Regions from separate parts of the Homo sapiens genome. Here region 2 is linked to region 1. The links come from fine-mapping of genetic effects on gene expression. A gene starts in region 1. The other region holds a variant in brackets. All regions are shown on one strand. Distances are from middle to middle. Region 1 holds the start of BMPR1A (bone morphogenetic protein receptor type 1A). Region 2 overlaps BMPR1A (bone morphogenetic protein receptor type 1A).

Region 1 (16,170 bases):
CCTATGTCTTCCTCTGCCAGATATATGCACCTGCCTGAAATGAGACCACAAAAGTGAAGAACAGAAAAGACAACCTCAATTAATTATATCATTTGAGCACTTAGGTCCAGCCATGTCTATTTCTAGACCTTTCAATATCATGGGGGTTAGTGGGGAGAAGCTTTTCCCTCCTTTAAGCTAACTTGAGTTAGGGCTGTCACTTGTAAGCAAGAGTCACTTGAGAGAGCCACCCAATTCCCACTGTTGGAATATAAAATCTATACAGCAATGACTCCCAAATGCCTACCTCCAGCACAAACCTCTGTCAAACCCCAGACCCATATAGACAACTGCCAAGTGGAAATCCCTACTTGGCTGTTTCAGATATCTCAAACTCCATGTGATCCAATACTATTTTCTTCTACAAACCAGCTCTCCCACCTCATTTTTCATATCTGTCACCCACATCTACCCTGCTTTCCAAGCTAGAAATCCAGGAGTTGTTCTTGCCAATCCCATTCCTTCTCTCATCCACGCTAGTTATCGCCTCCTATCCATTCCAGGCCCTAATTATCTGCCACCATCTTAACCCATTTATGCCTGAGGCTGCAATTTTTTGAATTTTTGCAATCAGACCTTGGTGATGACCTTGAGCAGGATATAAATAACTCCCACGTGCTTAGCGTTCCAATAGTGGAACACTAGGCATAAATGGGTTTAATCCGGGCTAGGCCAGAAAGACCTTCCTACAAGTTTGAACATCTTCAGTCTTCCTTTCTTCAAAATGATTTTCCAACATGTAACTAATCTCCCTAACTGCAAATGTGATTATAATATTTTATCCCTATCTCTAGCATACTCCTGTCCTCCTTCATAAGTCAACAGCCAATTATATACAGCTGGATCAAGAGCCAAGCTCCACTGTTCCAGACTTTAACAGTATAACAAATCTGTGCCATAAGAAAGGAAGGCTCATCAGAAATATAAAACTATAAAAGAGTAACAAAGTCTACAACATCAGAGTAAATAAAAGATACTCAAAGATAATTTACTCATCTATTCAATGTCTACTCATTAGTTATATATTAAACTGCCCATACGAACTGGCTTAGGGACCACAGGGGCCACCCTGAGATGGAGTCTACTGATCATCTGATCTCCCTATGCCCCTAACTAGTGTTCTTTTCAAAAAACACTACTGGGGATTTCCAGGCACATCCAAGAGCTTTGATTAGGGAGAGAAACACTATTCATCAATTCTAAGATGCATCCATTTTTCATATTTTAGCATCTCCGGAATTGGGGTGCACCTTACAATCAATGGCTTCTTACAACTAGAAGCATATTTTAAGTGGTCTGTAACACTACTGTGTATCTTACAATGGACATAACTCAATGCAAGTCAACATTTAATCTTGTGTTAAAAAGTTGGTCCAACTTGGTCAATATGGACCTTGTGATGTTAAAAAGACATCCTAAAGCCTAAAAACTAGTAAAAGGTGGGAAAGTAGAAAAGGAAAAGAAATGGTTCCTACTTCAAAATTTAGTGTGATAGGAAACCCATTTTCCTTTCTCTCCATGGTTCGCTGCTCCTAAGATCCAATAGTCAGATCAGGACAGTTCAACAGCTACTGTTAGGCTAGACAGGAGCCTTTCCCCATTTATTCCTTTTAATATGCAAGAAAAGTCCGTTACAGACCCACCCTGCAAACTAGTAGTGAAACTAATATTTGTATAAAAACTGCTATAAAGGCCAGCCACAGTGCCTCACCTGTGTAACCCCAGCACAGGGAGGCTGAGGCGAGCGGATCAACTGAGGTCAGGAGTTTAAGACCAGCCTGGCCAACATGGCAAAACCCCACCTCTACTAAAAATACAAAAATTAGCCAGGCGTGGTCCCAGCTACCTGGGAGGCTGAGGCAGGAGAATCCCTTGAACCCAGGAGGCAGAGGTTGCAATGAGCTGAGCTCACGCCATTGCACTCCAGCCCAGGCGACAGTGCGAGACTCTGTATCAAAAAAAAAAAAAAAAAAAAAAAGAAAGAAAGAAAGAAAGAAAGAAAAAACAATAAGGTATTAAAAAAAAAAAAAAAAAAAAACAGGTAAATCTGAGGCAAATACCACAGAAAATATTTCATTTAATGGAAGACCTAGGAAACTTCTGAGTGGCGAAGTGGTAAGAACTGGGCTTACAGATTAATTTAGGCAGAAATACATAAGATTAGATAAAGGAGAAAAGTGAAGGCAAGAAAATCATAACATTAGTCCAGGTGGGATGAGAACTTGATTTAGAGTTAGGGGGTGGGGGTGGAGTCGCGGGGTGGTGGGGGGAGAACTACGTGAAAGCCAAATAACACTAGATTTGAAAATAAATTCCTGAAAAAAATGTGAAACATTAAAATTCATATGAGAATCAGAAAATCGACACAAACCAACAGCTATTAAAGAAATTGAAGTGTTACTCAAAGTCCTCTCCAGAAAAAAGATCTAGGCCTAAATGGTCACATAGGGGAGGTCTTCCAAACTTTCAAGGAACAGATAATCCCAGTCTAAAATGATCCTGAAAAAGAGAAAAAGAAGGAAAGCTGCCCAACTCGTTTTATGATTTGACTACTACCTTCACACCAATATGAATTCAGAATTGCCCCACAGTTAGCAAGAATAGAGAGCAGAAGAGTTACAATATCATAAAGCAGAATCAACAGATGTTGGCTACAGACAAGATATGATGAAATGGGAAAAGGTTTGGGTTTGGTATGACATCAACAAAAATAAAGAACACCAAAGAGGCAAGTTTGCTAAGGAAAAGCAGCTCAGAACAATCAGGTACAGATATGTAGAAAGCAACTGAATAAAAAAGAAAAAACAAAACAAACAAACAAAAAAACGTGATTCAGAAGACACATAAACAAAGAATTGAGAATTATTCCAACAGAAAGGTCTGAACAATCATTCTAAGGGACTAGAGACATAGAGAAAAGTGATCTGAAAAGTGAAACTTGGAGAACGCATATTAAAGAGGAAAGAAGAAACAGAAGGCAGAAAAGTGGCGGAGAGGAACAAAGTCAGTATAATGTCACAAAAGGCCCCTCTTCATCTAGTTAATAGTTAACTCTTGCTCATCCTTCACAATCTGCCTGGGTTCCAACAAAGCAATTTTAAGGTATCTTTCCCAGATTCTCCCACCACCACAAGCACCAGATCAGGTCTCCATTTGAAGTTCTTATAATATTCTGCACCTTAATTAAAATCACAATTATATTTAACTAGAGACTTTATTTTTCAATAAGTATTTCCCCACTAGACTTTAAGCTCCATGAGGGAAGGATCTGTTGTATCTTACTGCCTTGGACCCTGTGTTAGAATACAGCGAGTATAGATGAATGAAACCCAAGGAGAGGCATCTGAAAATGTGAAGTCGATGTTAAATCTTACAGAAAACTCAAGGAGAGGACTTAGAAAAAGGTAGTTAAATGTGTTGATTAGGTTATAGTTCCTTGTGAAGGTGAAATCCAGATAACAAGGGGTTAAGAAATGAGTGGCTAGCCACCAACCAGGCAAAGGCAGGAAAAGCAGACTACACTTGGCAATCTCTAGAGATGGATTGTGAATGACTAAATTTTAATTTCAATGTTGCGCTAGTTCGCAATTAACAACCATGTGTTACTTTTATTACGAACAAGCTTTTTAAAATGTTAATAAGATTTGAAAAGGAAAAGCAGCAACAAGACAGCTTGAAGGAGTAGCAGACTTAAGAAAAGGTTTTTGTAAACTGAAAAAATCTTAAGAACATTTGTACTTTAAAGAACCCAAATACGACAGAGAAAATAACTCACGCTCCACTAAGCAGGAAAATTAGAAGGAAAGGAAAAAAACCCCAAGGTGTTAACTAATAAGAAAGACAAAAAAAAAAAAAAAAATTCTCCCTCTTTGACGGAAGGTTAAGAAGCCAGTAACAGAAGGAATTTAATGAAGGAGCTCCTGCTAAGTGCCTCAACCTCTTCTGTAAAGGGTGGGGAGAAGTGAAGAAAGTAGAAAAAGTTTAAAGTGGGCTCCACGGAAAATGGAGGAAAAATTAAACAAGAACTGAGTCTGGTTCTACTAAAAACGCATTCTACATTTCAATCGGCCTTTCATACACTCACCCCATTCCTAGATCAGAGAATTGCCCATATTTTAGCTTCAAATTTAAAAATCTAAATAATTCTGGTTCACATTCTTTATTTCAACAACTGAAAACAATGAGACGCATTAAGTTACACTCTAATTCAAAGTTTAACTCCTCTCACAAGTAAATACAATAAAGTAGTTGTTTTCAACTCCAGCAACAAAATAGCGATAATTTCAAGTAAGAGTAACTGAAAAATGTTCCTAAACGTAAAAGTGTTTGCAAACAGTTTTGGTTTTTTTTCTTCCTAATTCGTTTGCCAGAATACGATGTTCCTGGGTTCAAATCCCAGCTCCCTTAGACAAGTTAGTTAACCTCTTTGCGACTCGGTTTCTTCCCCTAAAACAATGAGGAATACAATAAACCAGAATCGTTGTAAGGATTAAATGACGTAACACAGGTGCCAAGTTCATACTATGTACTCTGAACAGTTTGTTAACCGCTTAAAAGAGAAAACCTGCAGGAGTTTGACCAAATTAAAACATCTGAGAGCATGAAAGAGTACCACGCTCAAACGCCAGACCCTAACACACAGCATATTATTTTTCTTCCCTGACGCAAGCTCATTTTTTTTTCCTTGCCAAATCTTTCCACTAGGAGTCTGGAAAGAGAAAAAAGGGTCCAGGCAATCCAGCAGAAAGTTTTCCAAAACTGAAGTACGGAATCACCAGGCCACGGAGCGGAGGCCGCGCAGGACAACAGGTGAAGCAGCTCCGGGAGCTCGGGGGCCAGGGCCCCTTCCCGCGGGGACTCGGGGGCGGGCCGGCTGCTCCTCTCACTCGACCCCCGCCCGAAACTCATTTTGTTCTCCCCTGTTCCTCCCCACAGCGTCCGGAGCCAAATCACAAATATCAGCCTCGCCGCTCCGGGGCGGGGAGGTGAGCGCCTTTCCCATTTAAGGATTCCAGAAGCGTCCCCGGAGCGACTTTCGCCCACTCCGCATCCCCAAACTCGGCCTGCAACCCGCGAGTGGGAGACAAAAGAGGGGCCGGCGGGGGACGCGGCGCGGGGTGCCGTGGGTCTCTGGCTGGGCGGTCCCGGCCCAGCGCGCGCCGAGGCCTGCGGAGCTGCCGGGGCCGGGCCGGGCAGCCCCTGGCTCCGGCCACCGCGCGCCCAGCTGCCTCTGCAGCCTCGCCCGAGCCCCTCTGGCCTCCCCGCTGCGGCCAGCCCCTCCGGTCCGCACGCGCACTCCCAACTCACCCGGACCCCAGGGAACGCATCCTCCAGCCCTCGGCGCGGAGCGGGTGGGCGCGGCGAGCCGCCGGGGCGAAGTGGGGCCCGAATCGGCCTTCGCCCTTGGCGTGCAGCGGCCCCGACCCGGTCGCCCCTCGATCGGGCCGTGCGATCTTCGCCGCGCGCGGACGGACGCGCCGAGCCTAAGCCTTCCTGCCCGCCCTTGGCCCTCCTCCCTCCTCGCTCCTGCCTCCTCCCTTCTCCTTCGCCAAGCCCGGCAGGCGGATTCCAATCTCTGCAGCGGCCGCCGCCACCGCCGCCGACTCTTGCCAGGAGGGGAGGGGGCGGCGCGGGTGCGGGGGCCTGGGGGAGGGGCGGGCGTCCGCGGGCCTTGCACGGCGCGCGCGCACTGGGAAGGCCCCCGCCCGCGCCGCGCGCACCCGACCACGGGCGCCTGCCCCGCCCCGCCCCGGACACGAAAAGAGCCGAGCGCACGGCGGAAGCGCCCGAAGAGTTCGCGGAGCCCGGCGCCCAGTTGCCGGGGAGGAGGGCCAGCCGCCGGCAAGGGGGCGCCGAGCTGCTGGTGCGGGCGGGAGTCGGGGCTGCTCCTCCGCGCGGGCCCGCCGGCCCCTCCCCACAAGCCAGCCCCACAGCTGCCGCCCGGGTAGCTTCCCGCAGACGCCGTAGGTAGCACGCGATGGAACGCGGCGGAGGGGAGCGTGGACACGGCTGCCGGGCGCTGCGGCCATCGGCGCCCTGGACGCCCGCTCCGGCCTTCGGGGCCGGATATCCCCACTCTCGCGGGCTCTTTCGCGTGGACCCCTCCTCCGGCCGACACTCACACTGCGGTGAACGCCAGTCAGCTGGCGTGAAATAAGGTCGCTGGGAAGGCACCAAGTCACCAAGGTGGGGGATGGCCAGGTCGTGGTAGTTGCGACAAAGAAAAATATAAGTCACATTGCATTTGTTTCTCGCCCACCCACCGCTCCCGGCGTCTCTTCCCGGGCTCCTTGCCAGCGTGCCGAGGCGCAGGCAGGGTGATGGAGGCTCCCCGGCCGGGAGGATCTGCCGGGGAGAGCGGCTTCCCTCATCGATTCGGGAGCGCCAGGCCCGGCGCGCCCGGGCTCCTGTGACCTGCGAGCCCGCGAATTCCAGCGGCATAAGATAAGGAGCGGCGAGGGCCCAACAGGACTGAGGTCAGCCAGCTATAAATACGCCTCCAGCTCCACCGCGGGCTCACGCTGGTGACCTCGTGTACCCTCCGGAGGCTCATTCCGTCCATTTGGAAAATGCAAATAATTGTCACCACCTCTTTTCTTCCATTTCCCCTCATTCATGGTGGAAAATGCTTTTAAAAGTATTCGATGACCCGTATGTGAGGAAAGAGGAGATAGGCCCCTTTTTCACCAAATGTGACTTTAACCTCCTTAGTAATCCAAGAAATGTATCAAGTTTAAGTCACTTAACAAAAGATGTTCTTTTAAAGGTGCATTTTAAAAAATCACTTTTAAAACTGGGTAAACTGGGTAAAAAGAAAGGGGGAAGGAAAACAATGTGCCAGGCATTTGTATTGACACACATTCTTGCCTGAAGAGGTGTTTAGATTCCAGGGTATTCCCTTATATTCTGGTATAAATGTTTGAATTCCCGTGTATTTTGTTTCAATTTTTTGGTTTATCTTTTATTCTGTCTCCCTTTTCTTCTTTTACCCGCCTTTGCCCTTAATGCTGCAGATAGCCTCTGTCATTCTGAATTATTTTTCAATTCTGTTTTCTTCCCTAATCTTTTTTTCTGGGCTCTTCAGCTGTCTCAGGTTTGACAGTCATGGGTTGTAGTATCTTGCTATGCAGGAAGAAGAGGATACGTGAGATTACTTGCATCAACTAAAATTGGTCACTTTTCTTTCTCAAGTTTCCTTCATAATACCCAGTTTTAGTTTTTTTGTTTTTTGGGGTTTTTTTGTTCTTTTTTTTTTGAGACGGAGTCTCGCTCTGTCGCCCAGGCTGAAGTGCAGTGGCGCCATCTCGGCTCACTGCAAGCTCCGCCTCCTGGGTTCACGCCATTCTCCTGCCTCAGCCTCCTGAGCAGCTGGGACTACAGGCGCCCGCCACCACGCCCGGCTAACTTTTTGTATTTTTAGTACAGACGGGGTGTCACCGTGTTAATAGGTGTTCTCGATCTCCTGACCTCGTGATCCTCCCGCCTCGGCCTCCCAAAGTGCTGGGATTACAAGCGTGAGCCACTGCGCCCAGCCCCAGCTTTAGTTCTAAAGGAAAAGATGGGCCTTTTGCTTAAGGAGATTCACATTGATTGGTCAAAGCTCTCATTGACGTATGCTGAGCAATGTGTCGGCAGAGAAAACCATGGCAAGCGTGTTATTATGCTCTTTATAGTCTAGTTGGATTTTTAGACATATGAATTGGTCTATAAAATAGACAACAATCTCAGGTGGGAACCTTAGTACATCAAGTTTCTGAAATGTACAAATGAGTATTCCCTGGCTTGTGTTATCTGCCACTGTAGAAATGAGAGCAAAATTGAAGCATCAAATTTTAAGTCGTGATATGTTTGCTTCTCTGCAAAAGACTCTCCTTTTCAAATCTTCAGGAATTTTTCGCTCTCCTTTGATAAGGCCCAGCTAGTACCCAGGCTTCAATCCTCAGCGCCCTGGCTACCAGCAGCTAGTGGGGCATGCTGTTCTCCCTGGCTACTGGCATGTTTATGCATGCCAGCCCGTTTCTCCGGTCTGTCTGCCCAGGGAGACATCTGGACACGTGTGTTCTGGCCCCCAAACTCAAAAGCAACATCTCGGGATCCACAGTTAACATTCCGTAATGTGTTGGTATTCCTTTAAGTGGGTTACTAGAATAGGCTGGAAATGGTCTTTTCTTCTGTCCAGGTAGGTCACAAGAGAGGTAGTTGTTACATGCCCAAAGCAGCATTCATTAATTACATCGTGCATTTAGTTATTTGTTTGTGGTCTGAGCCCCTCTGCTCCACTAGAATATAAACTCCATGAGCAAAAGACTTTGTCAGTCTCTCTTTTTTTAGAGACAGGTTCTCACTTTGTCACCCAGGCTGGAGTGCAGCGGCATAGTCATAGTTCACTGTAACCTGGAACTCCTGGGCTCACGTGATCCTCCCCCCTCAGCCGCCCAAGTAGCTGGGACTACAGGCCAGCTTGACTTTGTCAATCTATTCTCAACTCTCTCCTCAGAGCCTAGTGCCTGGCAAGTGAATATTTGTTAAATGAGAGAAGAGAAATAAGCATACATATCCTCTAGGCATTTCTAAACCTTGTCACCAAGACCCTTTTAGTGTTAGAGGGTGGCATGGCTATCTTGGAAAGAGTGAAGGTTGGCTGGGAAAGCTGTGGATCACATCCTCTTCAGTGAAATGGGACTTCTGCCTTCAGGGATCCAAGGTGAATAGATTAATCCAAGCTAATCCATTCAAAGTCATTTTCATGTTGTAAAGATCTTATAAGGCAAAAGGCAGCACGAAGTCTCTGGGTCTGATGATAAGTTAGAGGCCAGTAAGGAGGCACGAGTGAAGGAATGCCATTGGTAGGGTGACCCTTTAGGTTGGCTTCAAACCCAATATTAAATGGGTAGGTGTTAGGGAGAATAAACAGCTTCATTTTTCAGCATGGACACTACTACATCTTTTTTTTTTTTTTTTTTTTTTTTGGTTAGTAGTACCCCATCATGGCTTAGAAGGACTAAACTGAAACAGAAACTGTGGTTAAGAATAAGATGGATGTATATAATTCAGTGCACAAAATAGAGGAAGTTTAAAAACCTGAATTCATTTTCATTGTGGTGGTACAGTGTTTTACTTCTTTTGTTTACTTCTAAACAACTTGCTCCTTCTCCCTTAGCTCCATTTTAATTTATCTTTGCCTCAAAGCACTGGCTACTATGATTGAAAGATAGATGATGGAGGATATTGCTGCTCTCACTTGGTCCTACCTAGTCCGTGGCCTCTGTATTCCTCCTTTCCCTACTATCCGTACACCCTTTACCATAGAACCTGATCTTTCCTAGGCCTTGAGGCAGGAAGAATTATCAGAGCTTTGGTCCCAAGCTCAAGACTCAGCCTCCCACTGCCTCGCCCCTTTCTAAGAACTGACAGCCCTTCTCTTGTGTCTGAAACCCTGACCTGTTAGCTTGCCAGGACCTGGAATTTCTCTGCTTGTTGTTTGGACTTAGCTGCATCCCTGCACCCAGACTGCTGGGCAGTTGTAGGTATTGTTGGTGGCATCACTTAATTGCCTCCAGCTCTTTGTTTCTAGGCTCCCTGTATCTGTATTCTATCTATCTGTTGGGCCTCCCTTCCCCCATTACCTCAGGCTGGATGTCCCCATCCCCACTGCGCTCCTGGACTACCACCTGTTGTTTGCTCACTACTCTCTGGCTATCAGGCACTGCCTAGAGGACTATGGTTCCTCCCACCGAGCACCGGGAGCTGGGGCCTCCCTACCCCAACTCCCACGCAGCCCACAGTAGATCTTGGCCTTCCCTGTCCTGCTGCAGCTCACTGCCCTGCTTTTCCCTATCCTCACAGCACCTGGTTTATTGCACTTGGATTATTTTTTAACCAGATGAAAACTATATATAATATATATGCTCTGGACATACACTAAGTACATATTAAAGGTGTATTATATGTAATTTTGGCTGGGCGTGGTGGCTTATGCTAGTAATCCCAAGCACTTTGGGAGGCCAAGGTGGGTGGATCATTTGAGGTCAGGAGTTCAAGACCAGCCTGGCCAACATGGTGAAACCCTGTGTCTACTAAAAATACAAAAATTAGCTGGATGTGGCAGCAGGCACCTGTAGTCCCAGCTACTTGGGAGGCTGAGGCAGGAGAATCGCTTGTCGCAGTGAGCCCAGATCTCGCCATTGCACTCCAGCCCGGGCAACAGAGCGACACTCTGTTTCAAAAAAAAAAAAGCTATATATATATTTTTTTCTGGCTAAAAATTAATCCAAGTGTAATAGGGGTGTGTGTGTATATAATCTATTGAATATAATTCAAATAGATTTCTAGTCTGAACTTTGTGTGTGTGTGTAGGTGTTTGTGTACATATGTAAGTATATGCATATATGTATATATGTACACACAAATATGCATATGTGTGCACACATATGTGCGCATATGCGTATGTGTGCACACATATGTGCGCATATGCGTATGTGTGCACACATATGTGCGCATATGCGTATGTGCGCACACGTGCGCATATGCGTATGTGCACACGTGCATATATGCGTATGTGCGCACATGTGCATGTGCGCACGCATATGTGCACATGTGTATGCGTGCATATGTGTGCATATGTAAGTATGCATGTACACATATGTACATATATGTACGTATGCATGTACATATGTTTGTGTGTATACACACAAAAAACCCATACATACATTCAAAAATGAAAAGACCCATGTCTGATTCTTCTTAGTATCCCTAAACACTGATTCTACTCAAGAATTCCTTTGGAGCTAGTAGTCCAGAAATCCAGCATGTGGAGCTGAATATGATTACCTTGGGAATGACTAGTAAAAGGAAGGCAAGGTGCGATGATAAAAGATTCAAGCTGAGATAACTGGGGAGATAAAATCTGGATCAGGAGTGCAGATTCATGAACACCATACTGTGCCTACTGTCCATGGCTTACATGGTAATTGGGATGTATTCCTAGATGTGGTGTGGTGTCACCAGTGTGACCAGGCATACTAGTTTACCCATCGGATATGTTGAAAGTACCTGACCCTGTGCTGGACTCAAAAGTTCAGAGAATGGGAACTGTCTCATTCTCACTCCATTGTATCCAGTGTGCTGCTTGGCACACCAGTAGGTAGTCAGTAAGTATTTATTAAATGAATGACATACTTAATTTTGTTCTCTACTGGTAGTTTGCCCTGGCGCATTTCTTTTTATTTCTATTAGCCAAGGCAGGGTTAGGTGTTTTGTTTTGTTTTGTTTTTCCATATTTTTGAGGATTAATGATAAAGCACTTATCTTGTTGGAATGAGAGTCTACTAACAAATCCTGTACATCATAATAACAGAACTATCATCTAACAACTTGTTCTCAATAAATAAACTTTAAAACAACTTCCTTTATTATTTCAAAGGCATACATAGTCATATATATAACCAGTAACCAATACTTGTCAGTGTTTATTTTAAAATGCAGATTAGTTTCCATTTAGTTTGCTACCTACCTTAAAGCCCCTCTTCCTCCGATCCTGAATGCTGCTAGCTCTCCTCCTAATTGGTCATTCCCTCTTTCAACTAATGTTGCCCAGTTGTTTAGATTTCTATTGTGAAACACCAGTCCCATTAAATCTGAAAACACTGCTATAGAGTAACATTTCGTTAGACTGGTCTCACTACTTTCTGAAGAATGGACCATATTCATTCTCCATTTAATGCCATTCTCCTCCCTATACTGCCTGAGTACCACCTCTTCCAAGAAGTCATCTTTGACTACTCCATCCTCATCTCCTTAGGCTTTTCTCTCAATGGTCTACATCACTGACTTTCCACATAGCTTAGCTGTTCTTATGTCTTTCTCACAAATAAGTTTTCATACCTTTGTTCTTCAACATAAATAGGGGCCTCTCAGCCTGAGGGAGACAGTTTAGGGAGTACCAAAATACACGTAGTATCAAAAAAGCAGTCCCAGGCCACTGGAGCTTACCAGTTATTGAATCCTTGCTTCTGCGAATCCATTGTTTTGAAGGTTGGTGGGTAGTTGCAAACTCCTTGATGCATCTGCTGTGCTGTTGCATCCTCCCTCCTGTCTATCTCCCCTGCGTATGTACCACTGTCGCTATGGTCACGGTACTGAGCACCAGGGTTGCTAGGTTGCACAACTTTAAGGGGGTGCCATTCGCAACCTGCCTGACACGAATGGTGCTCCCTGGAATTATGCATTGCAACATCTGCACGTGATCCTGTCGAACACCAGAAAATTCTACTCCAGTGGCAATGGGGAGGCTGGTCCCTGGCTTGCTTAAAGAACCCGCTTTTTTATTGTGTAACATTATATACCTTTCAGGACATTTGACAAGATATATTTAAGCATTTGTTAATTTTGTATTATTAAATATGTGTGTTTATAAAGAAATAGATTATCCTGAAATAAAGAGAAAACGTTGGCAGTGTTCTGTGGTGGCCTAATGGATGGTTATTATTTTCTTCCATAAGCTTTATCTCCCCCACAATGGACAATGTTATACGTTACTTTTTTTTTTTTTTTTTTTTTTTTGAGAGTCTGCTCTGTCGCCCAGGCTGGAGTGCAATGATATGATCTTGGCTCACTGCAACCTCTGCCTCCCGAGTTCAAGTGATTCTCCTGCCTCAGCCTCCTGAGTAGCTGGGACTACAGGTGTGCGCCACCACACCCAGCTAATTTTTGTATTTTTAGTAGAGACGGGGTTTCACCATGTTGGCCAGGCTGATCTTGAACTCCTGACCTCATGATCCGCCCGCCTTGGCCTCTCAAAGTGCTGAGATTACAGGCGTGAGCCACTGTACCCGGCCCAATGTTACTTTTATAATCAGAAAAGTAGATATTTTCGACTGTGGGTTTCAGCACCAAAAAAAAAAAAGAGTAGATATTATTTAAAAGAACTGGTTGATTGATAGAGAGAAAAATGAAAGTGGCAAATTGTATATTTGTCAGAATGAAGTCAGTTAGAATCCCATATAAGATATGTAATTAAAGTTTTTATTTATTTGATTGACGTGAATATTTTTCTTGGTAAAAAGAGTTATTCTAGGCCAGGCACAGTGGCTCACCCCTGTAATCCTAGCACTTTGGGAGGCCAAGGCAGGCAGATCGCTTGAGTCCAGGAGTTCCAGACCAGCCGGGGCAACATGGCAAAACCCCATCTCTATAAAAATTACAAAAATTAGCCAGGCATGGTAGCACTTGCCTGTCATCCCAGCTACTCGGGAGGCTGAGGCAAGAGGACCCCTTAAGCCCAGAAGGCAGAGGTTGCAGTGAGCTGTGATCATGCCACTGCACTCCAACCTGGGCAACAGAGGGAGACCATGTCTCAGAAAAAATAAATAAAGAGTTGTTCTGTTGTTACACTTGCAATAACACATCATACTCATGAGATTTTAACTATGTATACCATATGTCATCAAAACTAGGGTACTGTTTCGTTGTGGGTTTTTTCCACCCAAAGAACAGCATGGATACTGTTGATTATAAGATCCATCATTATTTTATGTACAACTAAGGAAGAAAAACCTTGCCAGTTAAACCCTGACACGTTAATTAAGATATCGCAATTCCAGAAAGTTTCAAATGTCAAAAAAAATGTGCATCTGAGAATTAATGAAATATGGTGTATTTTAATGCATCTAGAAGGTGAAGCAATGCCATACAGGCCAGCATTTGAAATGTTAAATTTCTGAGTTTTTGATGTATAATCTTGTTATGCCTGATTCCTGAATAGCCACACTGTGGATGATACCACAAAAGCAGAGGCAGTGCAGTTCAACTGCATGTAAACATGTAAAACAAACAAAAGTGAATAACATGATTCAGTCACATAACGTTTGGAAAAAATACCAGCATCAAGTCACGTGCTGGATTATATTACAAATCAAAAATTAACTTTTTTTTTTTTTTTGAGATGGAGTTTCACTCTTGTTGCCCAGGCTGGAGTGCAATAGCACAATAAAAATTAACTTTTTGACAGTTGCTTATACTGAAAATGTGTGATGACAAGACGAATCAAATTTTAGATGTTAACACATAAGTTATCTTTGGAGAAGTCAAACTAAACATTCAGAAAAATCTCAGCAGTGCAATAGAATGACTTTACATCTGTCCCGGAAACTGAACAATAGTGCTTGTTGCTTATGAGGCCATCAGGAAAAGCCAGCTGTGGATTTCTTTCTAGTACAATTAATTGCTTCCGCTGTATATAAAATTGAAAGAATTGGGTGCTTTAGTGCGGAAAAAGGATATCCTGCTACACTGCTCCTATTTCCTCACAAAGGCTATTACTGAGCCTTTCACCATTAATTCGCATGCATTGGATTATCCTGTGATGAAAGGCCAAAAGGCTTTTCATTTTTATAGTCTCTTATCCTATTTATTTGGCACCTCTCTGGAGATACCTGCTCTTCTCCCAAGACCAGCTAATTGCTAGGATGTCAGAAGGTGGCTAATGACTGACTTCCTTTTCAGAGACTGTGAGCCCATCTCTTTGCTGCTTCTTGGGGTGGCTTTTCTTATTGCTGAGAAATATTCTGCGTTCTGTCATTATTTGAGGTAAAAAATGCTATCTTTTTTTTTTTTTTTTTTTTTTTTTTTTTTTTTTTTTTTTAAAGACAGAGTCTTGCTGTCTGTCACCCAGGCTGGAGTGCAGTGGTGTGATCACAGCTCACTGCAGCCTCAACCTCCTGGGCTCAAGCAATCCTCCCACCTCAGTCTCCCAGGTAGCTGGGACTACAGGTGCATACTGCCACATTCAGCTGATTTTTTTGTATTTTTGTAGAGACAGGGCCTCCCTGTATTGCCCAGTCTGATCTCGAATCCTGGGTTTAAGTGATCCTCCCACCTCAGCCTCCCAAAATGCTGGGATTACAGGCGTGAGCCACCGTGCTAGGCTCAAGACTTTGTTCTTAAGGCTGAGCTGAGCAGGTCAGAATCTACACCAGCACTGTCTAATAGAACTTTCAGTGAAAATGAAAATGTCCTGTATCTTCCCTGTTCCAACACAGTAGCCCCTAATCTCATGTGGTTATTGAGCATTTGATATGGCTAAACAGAGAAACTGAATTTTGATTTTTATTTATTTTTAACTAATTTAGAATTTACACAGTCACACATGCCAAGCAGCTATTGTATGTACTAGCCAGTGCAGGTCTACATGAAGGATATATAAAAAAATCACTTGATGGTCTCAGTGCACACAATGGGCAGGGATTGAGGGGTTGGCATTGAAAATGCAGCATCTCAGCTAAGTGCAGTGGCTCACGCCTGTAATCCCAACGCTTTGGGAGGCCAAGGTGGGCAGATCACCTGAGGTCAGGAGTTCAAGACCAACCTGGCCGACATGGTGAAACCCCGTCTCTACTAAAAATATAAAAATTGGCTGGGCATGGTGACGCACGCCTGTAATCCCAGCTACTTGAGAGGCTGAGGCAAGAGAATCTCTTGAACCCAGGAGGCAGAGGTTGCAGTGAGCCAAGATCGCGCCACTGCACTCCAGCCTGGGCAACAGAGTGAGATTCTGTCTCAAAAAAAAAAAAAGGAACAAAGAAAATGAAGCATCTAAACAACCAAAAGAGTAGAATTGGATTGTTTGTAACACAAAGGATAAATGCTTGTGGGGTGGATATCCCAGCTTCCGTGATGTGATTATTATAACTGCATGCCTGTATCAAAATATGTACCCCATTTAAAATATATATATATATATATCCACAAAAATTAAAACTAAAAAAAATGCCACCTTAAAAAAGAAAATGGGCTGGGCATGGTGGCTCACACCTGTAATCCCAGCATTTTGGGAAGCTAAGGCAGGCGGATTGCTTGAGCCAGGAGTTTGAGACCAGCCTAGGTGACATAGGGAGACCCCTTCTTTACAAAAAATACCAAAAATTAGCTGGGCATGGTGGCACACACCTGTAGTCCCAGCTATTCAGGAGGCTAAGGAGGGAGGATTGCTTGAGCCCAGGAGTTTGAGACAAGCCTGCGCAACATAGGCGGACCCCTTCTCTACAAAAAATACTAAAAATTAGCCAGGCATGGTGGCACACACCTGTAGTCCCAACTACTGAGGAGGCTGAGGTGGGAGGATCGCTGGAGCCA
Region 2 (16,170 bases), 180 kb before region 1:
TTCCTGTCCCAGCCTGCCATTTACAAACCATGTAGCCTTGGGCAGCCGGTGAAGGATTCAACCTGTTTTGTCAATCAGGGATACTGTCTCTCAAGGAAGTTGGAAGGAAAAGGGATCAAACGAGAAAGTGCTTTGTGGCTGGGCATGGTGGCTCACCTGCAAGCCCAACATTTTGGGAAGCTGAGGCTGGAGGATCACTTGAGCCCAGGAGCTCCAGATCAGCCTGGGCAACATAGTAAGACTCCATCTCTACGTTAAAAAAAAAAAAGGGCTGCAGTGAGTCATGACCACTGCTGCACTCCAGCCTGGGAGACAGAGTGAGTCCCTGTCTAAAAAAAAAATGAAAGTATTTTGTTAAAATGTACACCAGCTCAGACAACAGACTTGCATTTTCCTTCCTCTCTATTAGTGAAAAACAGAATTGGCCATCTAGCTTTTCTCCTGCAATAACACTGCTGTTGGGAATATCTAGGTTATCTAGAAATAGTGACCTATTTCCATTGCTAATAAGGTGAGGACGGTAGGTCTCAGGGTTTAATTTCCCACCCAATGGTGTAAGGGATGAATCACTAAGCACTGTCCTGTTATGTTTCAGGATCCCCTGTGGCCTTCTATGCCAGCTTTTCAGAAGGGACGGCTGCCCTGCAGACAGTGAAGTTCAACACCACATACATCAACATTGGCAGCAGCTACTTCCCTGAACATGGCTACTTCCGAGCCCCTGAGCGTGGTGTCTACCTGTTTGCAGTGAGCGTTGAATTTGGCCCAGGGCCAGGCACCGGGCAGCTGGTGTTTGGAGGTCACCATCGGACTCCAGTCTGTACCACTGGGCAGGGGAGTGGAAGCACAGCAACGGTCTTTGCCATGGCTGAGCTGCAGAAGGGTGAGCGAGTATGGTTTGAGTTAACCCAGGGATCAATAACAAAGAGAAGCCTGTCGGGCACTGCATTTGGGGGCTTCCTGATGTTTAAGACCTGAACCCCAGCCCCAATCTGATCAGACATCATGGACTCGCCCAGCTCTCCTCGGCCTGGGGCTCTGGCCAAGGATGGGCTGGAGGTCATTCAGTTGGTCTGTCTCTTCCCTGGAAACCTTCTGCAAAGATGGTGTGGTGTACGTGGCTTCCCTGTAACCACATGGGGCTTGGCCATTTCTCCATGATGAGAAGGACTGGAATGCTTCTCCGGGCAGGACATGGTCCTAGGAAGCCTGAACCTTGGCTTGGCATGCCTTCTCAGACAGCACGGCCTGGGCTCCAACTCTTCACCACACCCTGTATTCTACAACTTCTTTGGTGTTTTGCTCCTCCTGTGGTTGGAAACTTCTGTACAACACTTTAAACTTTTCTCTTGCTTCCTCTTCTCTTCTCCCTTATCGTATGATAGAAAGACATTCTTCCCCAGGAGGAATGTTTAAAATGGAGGCAACATTTTGGCCAACATTGGAAAGCACTAGAGGGCAATGGGATTAAACCAACCTGCTTGGTCTCTATTAGTCAGTAATGAAGACGACAGCCTGGCCAACCAAGGGAAAGGAAATTAGTATCTTTAGTTTCAGTCATTCCTTGTAGGATATGGTTTAGCTGTGCCCCCACCTAAAATATCATCTTGAATTGTAATCCCTATAATCCCCACATCAAGGGAGAGATCAGGTGGAGGTAATTGGATCTTGGGGGCGGTTCCCCCATGCTGTTCTTGTGATAGTTCTCACGAGATCTGATGATTTTATAAGTTTGATAGTTCCTCCTGTGTTCATTCTCCTTCCTGCCACCTTGTGAAGATGCCTTGGTTCCTCTTCACTGTCTGCCATGATTGTAAGTTTCCTGAGGCCTCCCCAGCCATGTGGAACAGTGAGTCAATTAAACCTCTTTCCTTTATAAATTATCCAGTCTTGGGCAATTCTTGATAGCAGTGTGAAAATGGACTAATACACTTGTGTTTATCTGTAATTTAAATTTCATGTCTTTTTCTCCTTGCCTTACATAGGGTAAAGACCAAGAAATGCCAAACGTGAACTAAAATATGTAGGGCCTTCAACTTTTTTACTTCCTCCAGTATCTTAGGACCATCGTAATTCTTGTTAGCATCTCTAACCAGGAGGCAGCTGAGGGAGGAGGGAAAGAAGACTGTAAAAATCCCCCTCACTAATGATCAACTTTGGAATAAAGTGATGCCCTTCAAATCTCTGCCTCATTTACTTCTGGAGGGCAAAAATAATTGGTAGAGTAGGTAAAAAAAACATGGGACAACGTGAAACTATGTGGGTAAATGTGACTGATTATTCCAGGCCCTGTTATGTAGAATGATTTCCGTTTATTCTATATAAAACACTTGGAAGTTTCCACACTAGGCAAAGATACTAATACTGGACTAGACAGTACAGCTCATAGCTGCAATTATTCCTGTAATATACCAGCATATGGTTTTCAAAAAAGTTCAGATCCTATAGCAAACTGGCCTGAGAAAACAGTCATCTAGCTATCAGAAACAAGGTTTTTTTTGGTATTAAGTACTCAAAATTTGTTGAATATAGTCTTCTCTATAAGAAAATCAGATTGCTGAGGCAGGAGAATCGGTTGAACCCGGGAGGCGGAGGTTGCAGTGAGCTGAGATGGTGACACTGCACCCCAGCCTGGGAGACAGAGCGAGACTCTGTCTCAAAAAAAAAAAAAAAAAAAAATCAGACTGGACTTCGTAGTGAGTTGCTTGTTGGCGTTAACAAGGTTATCAGCACTTCTCATTGTTTGCTAGGAGTTATTACTTCACTTGTTCCTCAGAATTTATTTAGCACTAAGTTTTGTGCACTCAATGTGCTAAAACATCGGTGTTAAAAGGAACAGTATGCCAGGCCACACTGCTCATGTTTGACCTGGGGTAAATCACAACCTCTCTTGAACTTTGTCTTTAGTGTGAGGTGGTTGATCTTACAGCTCTAATTAGGTATTCTGGCATTCTTTTTTGAGACGGAGTCTTGCTCTGTCACCCACGCTGGAGTGCAGTGGCGCAATCTCAGCTCACTGCAACCTCTGCCTCCCAGGCTCAAGCAATTCTCCTGCCTCAGCCTCTCGAGTAACTGGGATTAGAGGCACCCACCACTATGCCCGCCTAATTTTTGTATTTTTAGTAGAGACAGGGTTTCACCATGTTGGCCAGGCTGGTCTTGAATTCCTGACCTCAAATGATCCTCCCACCTCAGCCTCCCAAAGTGCTGGGATTACAGGTGTGGGCCACCACGCCTGGCCTCTGGCATTTTATTATCTTAACCACAGGTTTAAGTATCACCCACCCCCGGTGCAGCTCTCAGTTACCAAGACCAATTCTGCCCCAAGGCATGAAGCAGACGGCCACGCCAGAACAAAGATTAGAAGCCCAGTAGCAGGTGAGCCTTGCTGCTGCAGACTGTGCTGTGTCTTCTTTCTGCTCAATCATGCAGTGACTGGTCAGGCTCTGCTGTTAACAGTTGAGACATTAGGTAATGCAGTCTTATCCTTTGGAAGTTACTGCCCATAGTAAATGAAGTGAATTGATCCCTTCTGGAAGGGGTACATGTCATCCAACCCTCATACAGTTGGTCCTCTTTGAGAGGAAGATTATACATGAAAGTGCTAACGGGCAAGCTCTGCCAACAGCATGGATGTGTCACTCCAGAAGTTTCTGGGATGAGAACTAGAGAAATGGTTCTTCTGGACAGGGTGTTTTCCATGCAACAAAACATATATGACTGCATTTCACAAAACCTTAACATCAAGTTTAAGGGCAAATTTTCTGTTTAAACGGTCCTAAAATTAGGACCCCCCCCCCAGATTAGCAAGACTTCTGAAGTTCATCTGATAGACTTCCTGTCTCCACCTGGGTGGAGGCTCCTCCTGTCCTGCAAGCAGACCCCCCGTTACCCAGACCAGCGGTCAGCACCCTCACTGTGGCACCCAAAACACCACAATGGACGGAGCACACGGTGGTACCTGCAAACCTGATGTGGAAAAAATATTTTAAAATCCCCAAATTGGTGGCTCATGCCTGTAATCTCAGCACTTTGGGAGGCCGAGGCGGGTGGATCACCTGAGGTCACGAGTTCAAGACCAGCCTGGCCAATGTGATGAAACCCCATCTCTACTAAAAATATAAAAATTAGCCAGGCGTGGTGGCGGGTGCTTGTAATCCCCACTACTCGGGAGGCTGAGGCAGGAGAATCACTTGAACCTGGGATGCAGAAGTTGCAATGAGCTGAGATCGAGCCGTTGCACTCCAGCCTGCGCAACAAGAGTGAATGAAACTCCATCTCAAAAAAAAAAAAAAAAATCTCCAATTGGAAAACAAGAGACGGTACCATAAGTACATCAGGACATTTTAGTAATTCCTGAAAAATAGAAGGGATCAGGTCTGAAATGAAACAGCAACAGGAAATCATGACCCCAAACATGTGAGACTGCTGGGGAGATGGGAGTGATTTGGGCGGAGCCCCAAACTCAAACCCAGCCCTTGAGACATGTTGGGGAGGCAAGGGTTGAAAAACTAACTGTTGGGTACTATGTTCAGTATGTGGGTGATGGCATCAATCATACCACAAACCTTAGCATCACACAACATACCTAGGTAACAGATCTGTACATGTAGCCCCTGAATCTAAAATAAAAGTTGAAAAAAAACAATAACAAAAACCAACCCTAAAACAGTTCAACCATCACCACAAGGAAAAAAATAAACACACTTGGGGTCACTGTGTGCCAGAACTCCAGCCCTGCCGTCAGCCCTGAACCCCAGGTACACAGCAGCTGCTGGGCCTCTGGAAGCAGGGAGCCCCCATACTCTGACAAACATGCCCTTAACAAACCCACAGGGGCCAATCCCAAGTTGTCTGCAGAAACCACAACATAATGTCAAAGTCACTCCTACTGTTAGATTTTATTTCAGAAGCAGTGTGAAGAGGCTACATAGCTCGTGACATGTTGCTTAGAACTCTCCTTTTCTCAGCCTCTGCACCCTGTTATGTCTTTAGCTCAAAAACAGAAAAGCTCTCCCTGCTGTAGCCTGAGCACCACCCTCCTTCCATCCCCTCCATCAAGAAAGCTCCCCAAACCTGGCTTGACAATTACTCAGCTCTCTTGGAGCGGGTAGTGGACGTGGATGAATGCAGTAGGGAAAGCCAGAATCCTTTTGAGAAGGAAAGGGGAAATGAGGCCAGCATGGTGGCTCATGCCTGTAATCATAGCCCTTTGGGAGGCTGAGGCGGGAGGATCGCTTGAGGCCCAAAGTTTGAGGTTGAAGTGAGCTATGACTGTGCCACTGTACTCCAGCCTGGGTGACAGAGTGAGACCCTATCTCAAACAAACAAAAAACCCAACCACACCAAAATAACAATTAGCAAAACTTCAGTAAGGTCTATAGATTATGGTATTGTTGGTCATTGCTATTGTATCAATGTGAACTTTCCTGGTTCTGATAATTGTACATAATTGGTTAAGTAATAGAACATCCCTGAAGTATTTAGGGATAAAGGGGTATTAGCTCTGTAATTTGCTTCTAATAGGTCAGAAAAAAATGTGTGCATACACGATACATGGACATTACAAACATTACAAGATGAGTCTCTGTGATTCCTGTACACACACACACAGAATGACAAAGCAATTGTGCAATGTTAGCAGTTTATGAATCTGGGTGAAGGGTAAATGGCAGTCCTTATACTATTGATGAAACTTTAATGGAAGCCTGGAATCATTTCAAAATAAAACATTTGGCTGTTGAAATAAACTCAGATGGGCTGACAAAAGTAGAAGGTAGGATGAAACATATGAGAAGCATAGTAACAATTATGGAAGAAACATCTAGGGGACCTGAGATTTGTTCTAGAAAGTTCTAGAAAGAGAAAAGGAAAAGAAAGAAAAAAGGGAAGAAACAAAAGAAATAATGGGAGAAAATTTCCCAGGTCTAAGAAAAGATCCCATTAGTACTAAGAAACAGAATGAATATATTTAGATATGGCCAGTTTCAACTTCCAACATCAATAATAAAAAGAAAATTCTATTTCTTGAAAATAAGTTAACCTGTATAACATGTCACTTATTAGATCCACATCAGACTTCTCACTGGTGACAAGGGATGCTAGAAGATCATGGAGTATCATCTTCAGAGTTAGATTCTATCTCCAGCTGAACTCCTAGCCAAGTATGAGGACAGGATCAAGTAATAAAAATTGCTTTTGAAATGTCTTGATTAAAATCCCTCCCACAGCAGTGTAGGTCTTTCAGTGGAGACTTCCAATTTTTTATGTTTTTCAACACTGACCTGCATTTCAGTCATACAGTAGAGCAACAGATGTCATCATCTGGATTCTAAACTGGCTTTTAAAAATGGCTCTTCCATTAAAGAAAAACAAGGGGGCCCAATATTTTCTTCACATTGCTTGAATATATATATATATATGTGTGTGTGTGTGTGTGTATATATATATATATATTTTTTTTTCTTTTTTTTTTTTTGAGAGACGGAGTCTTGCTCTGTTGCCCAGCCTGGAATGCAGTGGTGCGATCTCAGCTCACTGCAACCTCCGCCTCCTGGGTTCAAGTGATTCTCCTGCCTCAGCTTCCCAAGGAGCTGGGACTACAGGCGAGTACCACCACACCCAGCTAATTTTTGTACCTTAGAGACAGGGTTTCACTATATGTTGGCCAGGCTGCTCCTGACCTCAGGTGGTCTGCCCGCCTCAGCCTCCCAGAGTGCTGGGATTAGAGGCATTAGCCACTGCACCCAGCCAAAAATATTTTCAATATAAACATTCCATATTGATTTTCACTTTGAGCTTCCTGCATAATGTTTAGAATGTGAGCCAGGCATGGTGGCATGGTCCCAGCTACTCAGGAGGCTGAGGTGGGAGGATGGCTTGAGATCAGGAGTTTGAGGCTACAGTGCGTTATGATTATGCCTGTGAACAGCCACTGCACACTAGCCTGGGTGACAGTGCAAGACTGTCTCTAAAAAAGACAAAATTAGGATATAAGCACTGAGGTGGATGTAGCGACATTGAGAGATATGGAATTGACTTAGATTTCATTTGAACAAAGACCAAGAAGCTGCTAAGATTCAGAGGAGCAATAGGTTGATGGAATATGTGAATTAACAATTCCTATGTCAAAAGGAGATTATGGGCTGGGCGCAGTGGCTCACGCCTATAATCCCAGCACTCTGGAAGGCCAAGGTGGGCAGATCACCTGAGGTTGGGAGTTCGAGACCAGCCTGGCCCACATGGTAAACCCCGTCTCTACTAAAAATACAAAATTAGCTGAGTGTGGTGGTGCACGCCTGTAATCCCAACTTCTCAGGTGGCTGAGGCAGGAGAATTGCTTTAACCCGGGAGGTGGAGGTTGCAGTGAGCTGGGATCACCCCATTGCGCTCCAGCCTGGGTGACAGAGCGAGACTCCACCTAAAAAAAAAAAGAAAAAAAGATTATGAATGAACCTTTCAGCCCTAGTCCTTGCTCCCTTCCAAAAATATTTTTTGTATGTGCCACTGCACTTGAAATAAGCCGCCATCTGGATCCCAGCATCGAGGTGACTCTCCCACTTCTGCTTATACCAGCACTCACACATTTAAGTCTCCATGCCTGCAGCAGTGCCGCTGATAGTAGGTGGCCTCTGCTCACTGCTGGCCACTTTCAGCGGTTTATGTCCACCCAGTCAAGACTGTATGCTCCAAGCGCTGAGCCAAGGCTGTGTAGGAGCGTGCACCTAACTTGATATAAGGATGACATGTCAGAAATGGTCAATATGCTACTACTATCAGCAAATGTTTCTCCAAGTGAAAACTTAGTAACTGACTTACTGTCTGCTTGAAACTATCTACAAGGATTAAACCTATTTTGGAAGAACAAGGATTAGACAATTCTGTTTCTTAATGTCTGCTCTGTTAATAATATTAAAGAAACCTTGGAATGGAGCAGTGAGACTAACAGATTGCTGGAAAGGAGAAATGAATACATTTATTCAGTGTTTCCACAGACAGAAGGAAAGCTGGCAAGCATTTGCAGTTCCCAGAAATCACTGAGTCTTCTTTACCAGGCTGCATCAGAGCGCCTGCGATTATTCTGAGAAACTTACAATGACACTGAACAGAGACTCCCGTGAGGAATCTGTAAGAGGCTATCTTCAGACACGCATTTCTTTTGAGGAACAATAATCAGTGCCACATCGCGTCTGTGATTTAACATGTTCAGTTCCCTAGGAAAAGGCAGCAGAAGGCACACTGCTGGGATGAATTCACATACACCTGAAAACAGCCCTGACTGGCGGTGGGACTCAGTGCAGGTGGGAAAATGACAAGAAAGTATTGCACAGGAGGAGGAAAGCTATCCAAGGCTTCACTTCCCATTGCAGCAGGAGCATCTTAAGGCCAGGTAAATGCATCCCATCGCTCTAAGCTCATGAACTGCTAGCAGGAATGAAAATGAAAAGCTTTGTGAGTAGCAATATGGCAATGTTTTCCAAGAACCTTAGTTTTTCCATCTTAAAGGATCTTTTAAAAGTTCATATCCACTAGTCTCATTTTCAGAAATGTAATATAAGAAAATAAAGATTTATGTATAAGGATGCTTAATATCTATTTTTCAAAACAATGAAAATAATCCAAATATTCAATAGGGGATTGAGCACAGAAATTACTCCATCTTCTTAGTCAAATATTGTGCAGTCATTAAAAAAAAAGTTCTCAATGGCTATTTAATGGCATACTAGGATCCTAATATTACAAAAAATGCAACATAAAAAAGAATAAGGCCGGGTGCAGTGGCTCACTCCTGTAATCCCAGCACTTTGGGAGGCTGAGGTAGGCAGATCACTTGAGGTCAGGAGTTCGAGACCAGCCTGGGCCAACATGGTGAAACCGCATCTCTACTAAAATACAAAAATTAGCCGGGCGTGGTGGTGCACACCTGTAATCCCGGCTACTTGGGAGGCTGAGGCAGGAGAATCACTTGAACCCAGGGGGCAGAGGTTGCACTGAGCCGAGATCGCGCTACTGCACTCCACCCTGAGTGACAGAGCAAGACTCTCTCAAAAAAAAAGATTGAAAAGAAACACTCAAATGTATATAGTGATAATGTCTGGCAATAGAATTTTGAGTGATTTTTATTTGCTTTATTATTTGCTGTTGTTTCCCAAATTTTCTGCCATGAGTACATTTCCATAATCAGAAAACAATGTTTTGGCCAGGCATGGTGGCTCATGCCTGTAAGCTCAGCACTTTGGGAGGCCAAGGCAAGTGGGCCACCTGAGGTCAGGAGTTCGAGACCAGCCTGGCCAACATGGTGAAACCCTGTCTCTATTAAAAATACAAAAAATTAGCCAGGCATGGTGGCAAACACCTGTAGTTCCAGCTATTCGGGAGGCTGAGGCAGGAGAATTGCTTGAACCCAGGAGGCAAAGGTTGCAGTGAGCTGAGATCGTGCCATTGCACTCCAGCCTGGGCAACAAGAGCAAAACTCCGTCTCAAAAAAAAAAAAAAAAAAAGGAAAAAGAAAACAATGTTTTGTCTTGTTTTTTAAAGGAAAAACCCCTGCACCGTGATAGGTTTAGAAGTTCTCTATCTCCACAGGGCAAGCGTGTACCTACCTGTGCTCCATACTGGGTTTCTGGTAGTTGAAGTGTACATCTCAGGAACATATGTATATACACTAACTTAATCATTACAAAAATCTCAACAGATGACTTCTGATGCACAATACCGTCTGAGTGTAGCATCACAAAACACATCACTAAAGTATACTAAAATAAGGTTATTTACTTCAAAATGATACATTGGACATAATCTGTATATAGAACAAAGCAAGTAATGGTAAACTCTTAAGGCACCTTTTAAACCAGATGCTGTACAAAATACATTTAGTGTGTTACACGTCAAAGACGAATCTATATTTTTGGTGTTTTACAACTGCCTGATAAAACTGCTTGCTTTTACCCTTCTTTCAATGCCTATGTACAGTTTCCCCTAATGAAGCAATAATGATATTTCCATTTTATACAATATATACTACATTTTAGTTTTTAAATGGGCCAGGACAAAGGTCACTAAAAGGGCTTAAATAATTCCATAGAAAACAGAATACAGAGCATAAGCTAAAATTACAATAGTTAATCCTTTACAAGAGCCATATTCACATACTTTCCTTATGGGACCATCATTACACGTGGCTTCACAGGATGCTGTGCTGGATTTTGGTTCTTAGGAACACACCTCCTCCCTGCAGTTTCCACTGTGACTCTCACAGCAGCACACTAAGGCAAGAGACGAGCTGTGGCACTGCTATTTTAACACCTGACTCAAAGTCAGTAATAAATATGACCACTTTTAAACACTACAAGGGCTATCATAATCTTTTGTTAAAATAAAAATCATTTCTGCTGTTGAAATGATTTTAGATATTTAGAAACATTTCAAAACAACATCTATGAAGTATGTTTATGAAAGCTGCCCTGGAATAAATTATTCAATATCAAATTTGATCCTGGGCCAACCCAAAGATGCATGATTCTTTAAAAACTATAGTGCATTTTTGTTCTAAACAGAACAAAGCATCTGAAGAAAAGTACTGATTGTTAGAGTAAATCAAAATTTGGCACGTTCTAGGAAAACATAATTTTAAAAAACTATAGGTCACTTTCTAAGTTTAGAAACACTTCTGGACACTGGAAAGGCAATGTAAAAATACTGATTAAAATAACTTTTGTGAAAATATTTCCAAAGAAATCAGATGCAAGTTTTATACATCAGAAACTTGTTCAGTAAAAAGCACAGTAAAAGCTTAGAATAAACAAACTGAAGGAAACCCTAATGTGCCTTTAATCCTAGAGCTATTTGCCAGCATAAAGAGAATTCACAAGAACTCTCTTTGAGGGTTAACTTTTCCTGTTTATAGTCAGGTAGTTTGGGTTGTTTGCTTTTATATTTTAATTATTTAAAGAGCTATCTGAATGAAGCTACACACTTCAAAAACACTAAATTGCAAGTGGGACCAAATAATGGCTTCCAAGGTTTTACGAATTTACTAACTATGGTACTACATAATACTTCTTCTTGCTGGCCTATCATATTCTTTAAATATTTCACTTAGTCGATGAGCTTCAGATTTAAGAATAAGAGTGGAAAGGAGAGACAAGAACTAAGTTTAATGCAACATTTTTGTTTTTTGTTATTTATTTGTTTGTTTATTTGAGATGGAGTTTCGCTCTTTTGCCCAGGCTGGAGTGCAGTGACACGATCTCAGCTCACTGCAACCTCCACCTTCTGATTTTAAGCAATTCTCCTGCTTCAGCCTCCCGAGTAGCTGGGATTACAGGCACCCGCCACCACGCCTGGCTGAGTTTTTTATTTTTAGTAGAGATGGGGTTTCACCATGTTGGCCAGGCTGGTCTTGAACTCCTGACCTTGTGATCCACCCGCCTCAGCCTCCCAAAGTGTTGGGATTACAGGCGTGAGCCACCGCGCCCGGCCACATTTTTAGATTAAGATTCCAAAGACGGCAGCATTTGCTTTTTAAAGAACATGTTATACTAGAAAATGTTTTTACTGAGCAAGTTTCTAAGATTAACTCTTGATATCACTTTTACTAGACCAAGTTAATTTTAAAAAACCATAATAGTGGTCTCATATACTGGCTGTAATTTTTTGCTTCCACACACCATTTGAACATTTCCAATAAACTTTGCCTGTCTTTATATTTTTATTAAGATGACAAATGAACTTTGGGAGGCCGAGGCAGGTGGATCATGAGGTCAGGAGATTGAGACCATCCTGGCTAACAAGGTGAAACCCCGTCTCTACTAAAAATACAAAAAATTAGCCGGGCGCGGTGGCGGGCGCCTGTAGTCCCAGCTACTCGGGAGGCTGAGGCAGGAGAATGGCGTGAACCCGGGAAGCGGAGCTTGCAGTGAGCCGAGATTGCGCCACTGCAGTCCGCAGTCCAGCCTGGGCGACAGAGCGAGACTCCGTCTCAAAAAAAAAAAAAAAAAGATGACAAATGATTTTAAAGATTATGGTATCAAGTCAAAAGTAAACCAAGATTTAAGTAAATTGGGTGTTCTAAGTGCAATCATATCATACGGCAACGCAGATTAAAATATTTGTATTTCTCAGTATACATATGGTGAAAAATTCTGAAAAAACAAGTTATTGGGTATTATCCATATGCAAATTTACTTATCTTGATGAACACTTCAGACTTTAATTATGGCAGATGAAACTTATTAATCAAAATGGTTAAGGCAATTTTCAAATTTGTGAAATTTGATGTGCAGACAAATTTGTAAGTTTTAACCTTAAATGATAGTCAAATTTTGGTAATGGGTGGACATATGCTGATTTCCTCCCATTTAATTTAAACCTTTTTGATGATGATGTGATATAATCACATTTATTTTATGTTATAATCAAATAAAACTATCTCACTTGATGTACTCATGAATTGTTTGCTCAGAATAAATATTTAAAAAGCATTAAAGAAGTATAAGTTTATGT[A/G]AATCAGATTTCTTGAGATAACAAGGCATCTATAAAATATGAACCATTTTATTGAAGAACAGTTATACAGTGTAGCTACAGATACTGACTAGATACTAAATATTTCTGCCTGATTTTTCATTGTCTTCACAAGTTAGGGAATAGAAATCAAAAAACCAAAAATCTCAAATGATTTAGCTGTCCAGAACATATTTGACAGTTGATAAATTTATAACAGCTCTGACATATAAATTTCTAATTAGAGAATCCTTTCATTTGAAAAAATTGAGATGATATTACCCTAATGAAGTTTTTACCTGAAGTTAACAAAGTCCTGGATTTGATATATTACTTTGAATGCATTAATTCTGAAAATTTATATTTAGTTCTACTTTATAACATTTCTTCTCTTAAGGATGGGATATGAGGTACACATGAGCTGGTTTCTACAGTATGAATGTATGTACATATATAAAGTATGGTTGTAAAGGAGTGGGTGATTTGCAAATAAAGCACATTATACACAAAATATAAATAACTTCCCTTTTAAAAGTTACTGAGAATAAAGAATATAGAACATGGTTATAGGCACTTACATTGCTATCAAATGCAGGAATTCACTTCAATAAGAAGTGCTTTCTTTGTAAGCATGGTTCATGGCAATAGAAGCTCCAACTTTGGAGAGGATGCTTTCCGTGACAAAAATAATAACCACAAAAAAAATGGTGGTTGAAGGAAAACAGTCCAAATTTACAGATGCTTTAAACTTCTTTTGGCCTTGGCATCAGCTTTCATGTTAAAAAATAAAGCTGGTGGGGAAGCTATCTCACTTGCAAAGTAAATGGCTTGTATGAGATTGGCGAATCTTGGTCAGATATTGCATTTTTAAAGCACAAAACCACCGGCCACCAATATCTTCCTGTGCATGCATATAAATTATTTTCTTCTAATTCAAATGGCAGCAGAGGAATCCCGGCGTGCATGTGCATGGAGACACACACACATCACTAAGGACACAGGACAAACTATCATAAAATAAGCAGTATCCCAAACACATCATCATCTATAGGCTGTTTTACAAAGGTAGAATACAAACGAACTGAAAGTCTCAGGTAAAAGGCAAAGTCTATTTCTCCATCTCTGCTGCGCTCATTTATCTTCTTAAGGCTTTCACAGAAAGCACCGTTTTATGAACAGGCAATTCAGTACCCAGAGCTTGACTGGAGACACTAATCAGGATTGAAGTCTTGATGCAGTTCATAAAAACCCACTTAAAAAAAGGCATCAAAAACCACATTTAAAATAAAGCTGTCCATATATAAAGAATGAAGTGTTTAGAAGTTCCCAGCTTGTATCCTAATAAGAGTACTGAAAGGTTTAATATTAGCAGCCTGTGAACACGTAGTGAAGAAAGAGTCTGAGAACCAAGTTAACATCCTTATTCCACTCTAATTCCACCCATGCCATGGGTAAAAACAGTTCTTGCAGTCTAGAGTTTCTCCTCCGATGGTTTAACCATCAGATTTTTACATCTTGGGATTCAACCATCTTGGCAAGCGTCTTCTTAATTCTCAATGCTGTGAGTCTGGAGGCTGGATTGTGGGCCCAGCATTCTGACATTAGCTTCAAAACTGCTCGTAGACACTGAAAAGTAAAGAGATGTTCAGTGAGCAGAGAATATATTTGGTGGCATTTACGAATCACTTCTTCAGGGGACTGAGTTCCACTCACTTCATCACTGTTCCACCGATTAGACACAATTGGCCGCAAACGTTTGACACACACAACCTCACGCATATCTTCGTATGACGGATCACTCGGTACCATGTTGTAATATGGCAATTGGTATTCTTCCACGATCCCTATAAGGGAATGAGAAAACATGGGCACAAAAATGGTTGCTGGACAAGATATACCAATCTAGTAAGCATCTTTTGCTAAACTATGGAACTAAAACGGATTCTTACACAAGAAAAAATATAGACACTATGATTCACTCTTAATAGTAGATGTATGTTTTTCTCTTATTTATGTCCAACTATTTCCTCTACCTCCACCAGGGATGTCATCACAACTGTGATAGAGTCCATCGACAAAGGGCATATCAATCTTCCTTAAAAAAAATAAGCAAGGCGAAATCAGCCATTTACCCTAAAGTATAATTATTTACTTATATGGTTGTTCCTACTAATGAATAGTTTTTATTATTTTGTTTCATTTTGCTCTGCAGTAGAAAGACTTATGAGGTGCAGATAAGGGTTCACACAGCAGGCCTGAGACCTTCCCTTAGGAAAGGCGGCTTGCAAGGTTTGGCCTTGGCCAGTGCCCGGGTACACAAATGGTAAACAGTTCCCTACATGGATATAAAACTTACCGGAAACGGTGAGGGTAACTCACCACTCCTGGGCTGCTTGTGCAAACAATGTGGTGTGTACTGCACGTCTGCTTTCCTGCTGGAATTCTGGTACATGCCAGGCAGAGGATGCCTATGTGACCAGCCTCCAGTAAAATCTCTGGGTGCCAAGTCTCTAAGGAGCTTTCCCGAATGAGAACACTTTGTATGTGTTGTCACAACTAGTAAGAGGAATGAAGCACACGCCCTGACTCCGCTGGGACAGGATTCTGGGAAGCCTCGCCTGGTTTTCTAAACTTGGCTGATTTTGATTTGTATCCTTTCACTGGGATAAATGTTAGCCATTGGGACAACCACATGCCGAGTCCTGTGGTCCTTCAAGTGAAATCGCACAACCTGGGGGTGGTCTTGGGGACTCTGACGTATGTGACATCTAAATTACGTAACTGCCAGCAATTGCACTCCTAGGTGTATACCCAAAAGAAAGGAAATCAGCTAACCGAAGAGATACCTGCACCCTCATGTTTGCTGCAGCACTGTTCACAATAGCCAAGATGTGGAAGCAACCTAAGTGACCATCAACAGATGAACACATCAAGAAAATGTGGCACCTACACACAATGGAGTATCATTCAGCCAGAAAAAAGAATGAGATTCTGCCTTCTGAAATAACATGGAGGAACTGGATGTCATAACGTTAAGTAAAATAAGCCAGGCACAGAAAGACAAACTTCACATGTTCTCACTTACTTGTGAGATCTAAAAATCAAAACAACTGAACTCATGGAGAACAGAAGGATGGTTACCAGAGGTTGGGAAGGGTAGCAGCAGATGGGGGGGGATGTTTAATAAGTAGAGACAAAATAGAAGAATGAATAAGTATTTGGTATTTTATAGCACAACGGGGAGGACTACAGTTAGTAATAATTTAATTGTACACTTAAAAATAACTCAAGGAGTATAACTGGTTGGTGAAACAAAGGATAAATGTCTGAAGGGACAGATATCCAATTCTCCAAGATGTGATTATTACACATGGCATGCCTGTATCAAAATAACTCCTTATCCAATAATATATACACCTACTATGTGCCCACAAAAATTAAAAACTAAAAAGTTATATAACTGGAGCTGTTATTTTTAAAATGATGAGTAAATCAACATAATCAGAAACTACTCAAACTCCCACCTCCTGTGATACAACGACGAGCCATCTCCCAAATGATTAGGCCGAAGCTGTAGATGTCAGCCATGATGTAGGGCTGGAAGTGGTTTTTGTTCAGGCTTTCGTCCAGCACTTCGGGAGCCATGTAGCGTTTGGTGCCCACCCTGGT

Evidence for each region.
Region 2: its variant is fine-mapped to the expression of BMPR1A in whole blood (TOPMed, PIP 0.93).

The regions. Positions count from the first base shown.
Region 1 is chr10:86,746,096-86,762,265 of GRCh38, reverse strand. BMPR1A (bone morphogenetic protein receptor type 1A) reads right to left here and starts at 5,647. Exons shown (of 13, transcript NM_004329.3): 1 at 5,347-5,647. RefSeq lists a silencer at 5,165-6,134.
Region 2 is chr10:86,921,551-86,937,720 of GRCh38, reverse strand. BMPR1A (bone morphogenetic protein receptor type 1A) reads right to left here. Exons shown (of 13, transcript NM_004329.3): 11 at 16,026-16,170; 12 at 14,215-14,345; 13 at 9,752-14,127. The coding sequence ends at 14,002. MMRN2 (multimerin 2) reads left to right here. Exons shown (of 7, transcript NM_024756.3): 7 at 596-2,181. The coding sequence ends at 978. Among named protein-coding and RNA genes, the nearest start is that of MMRN2, 28 kb to the left of the region's middle. The variant A/G (reference allele first, on the strand shown) is at 12,505.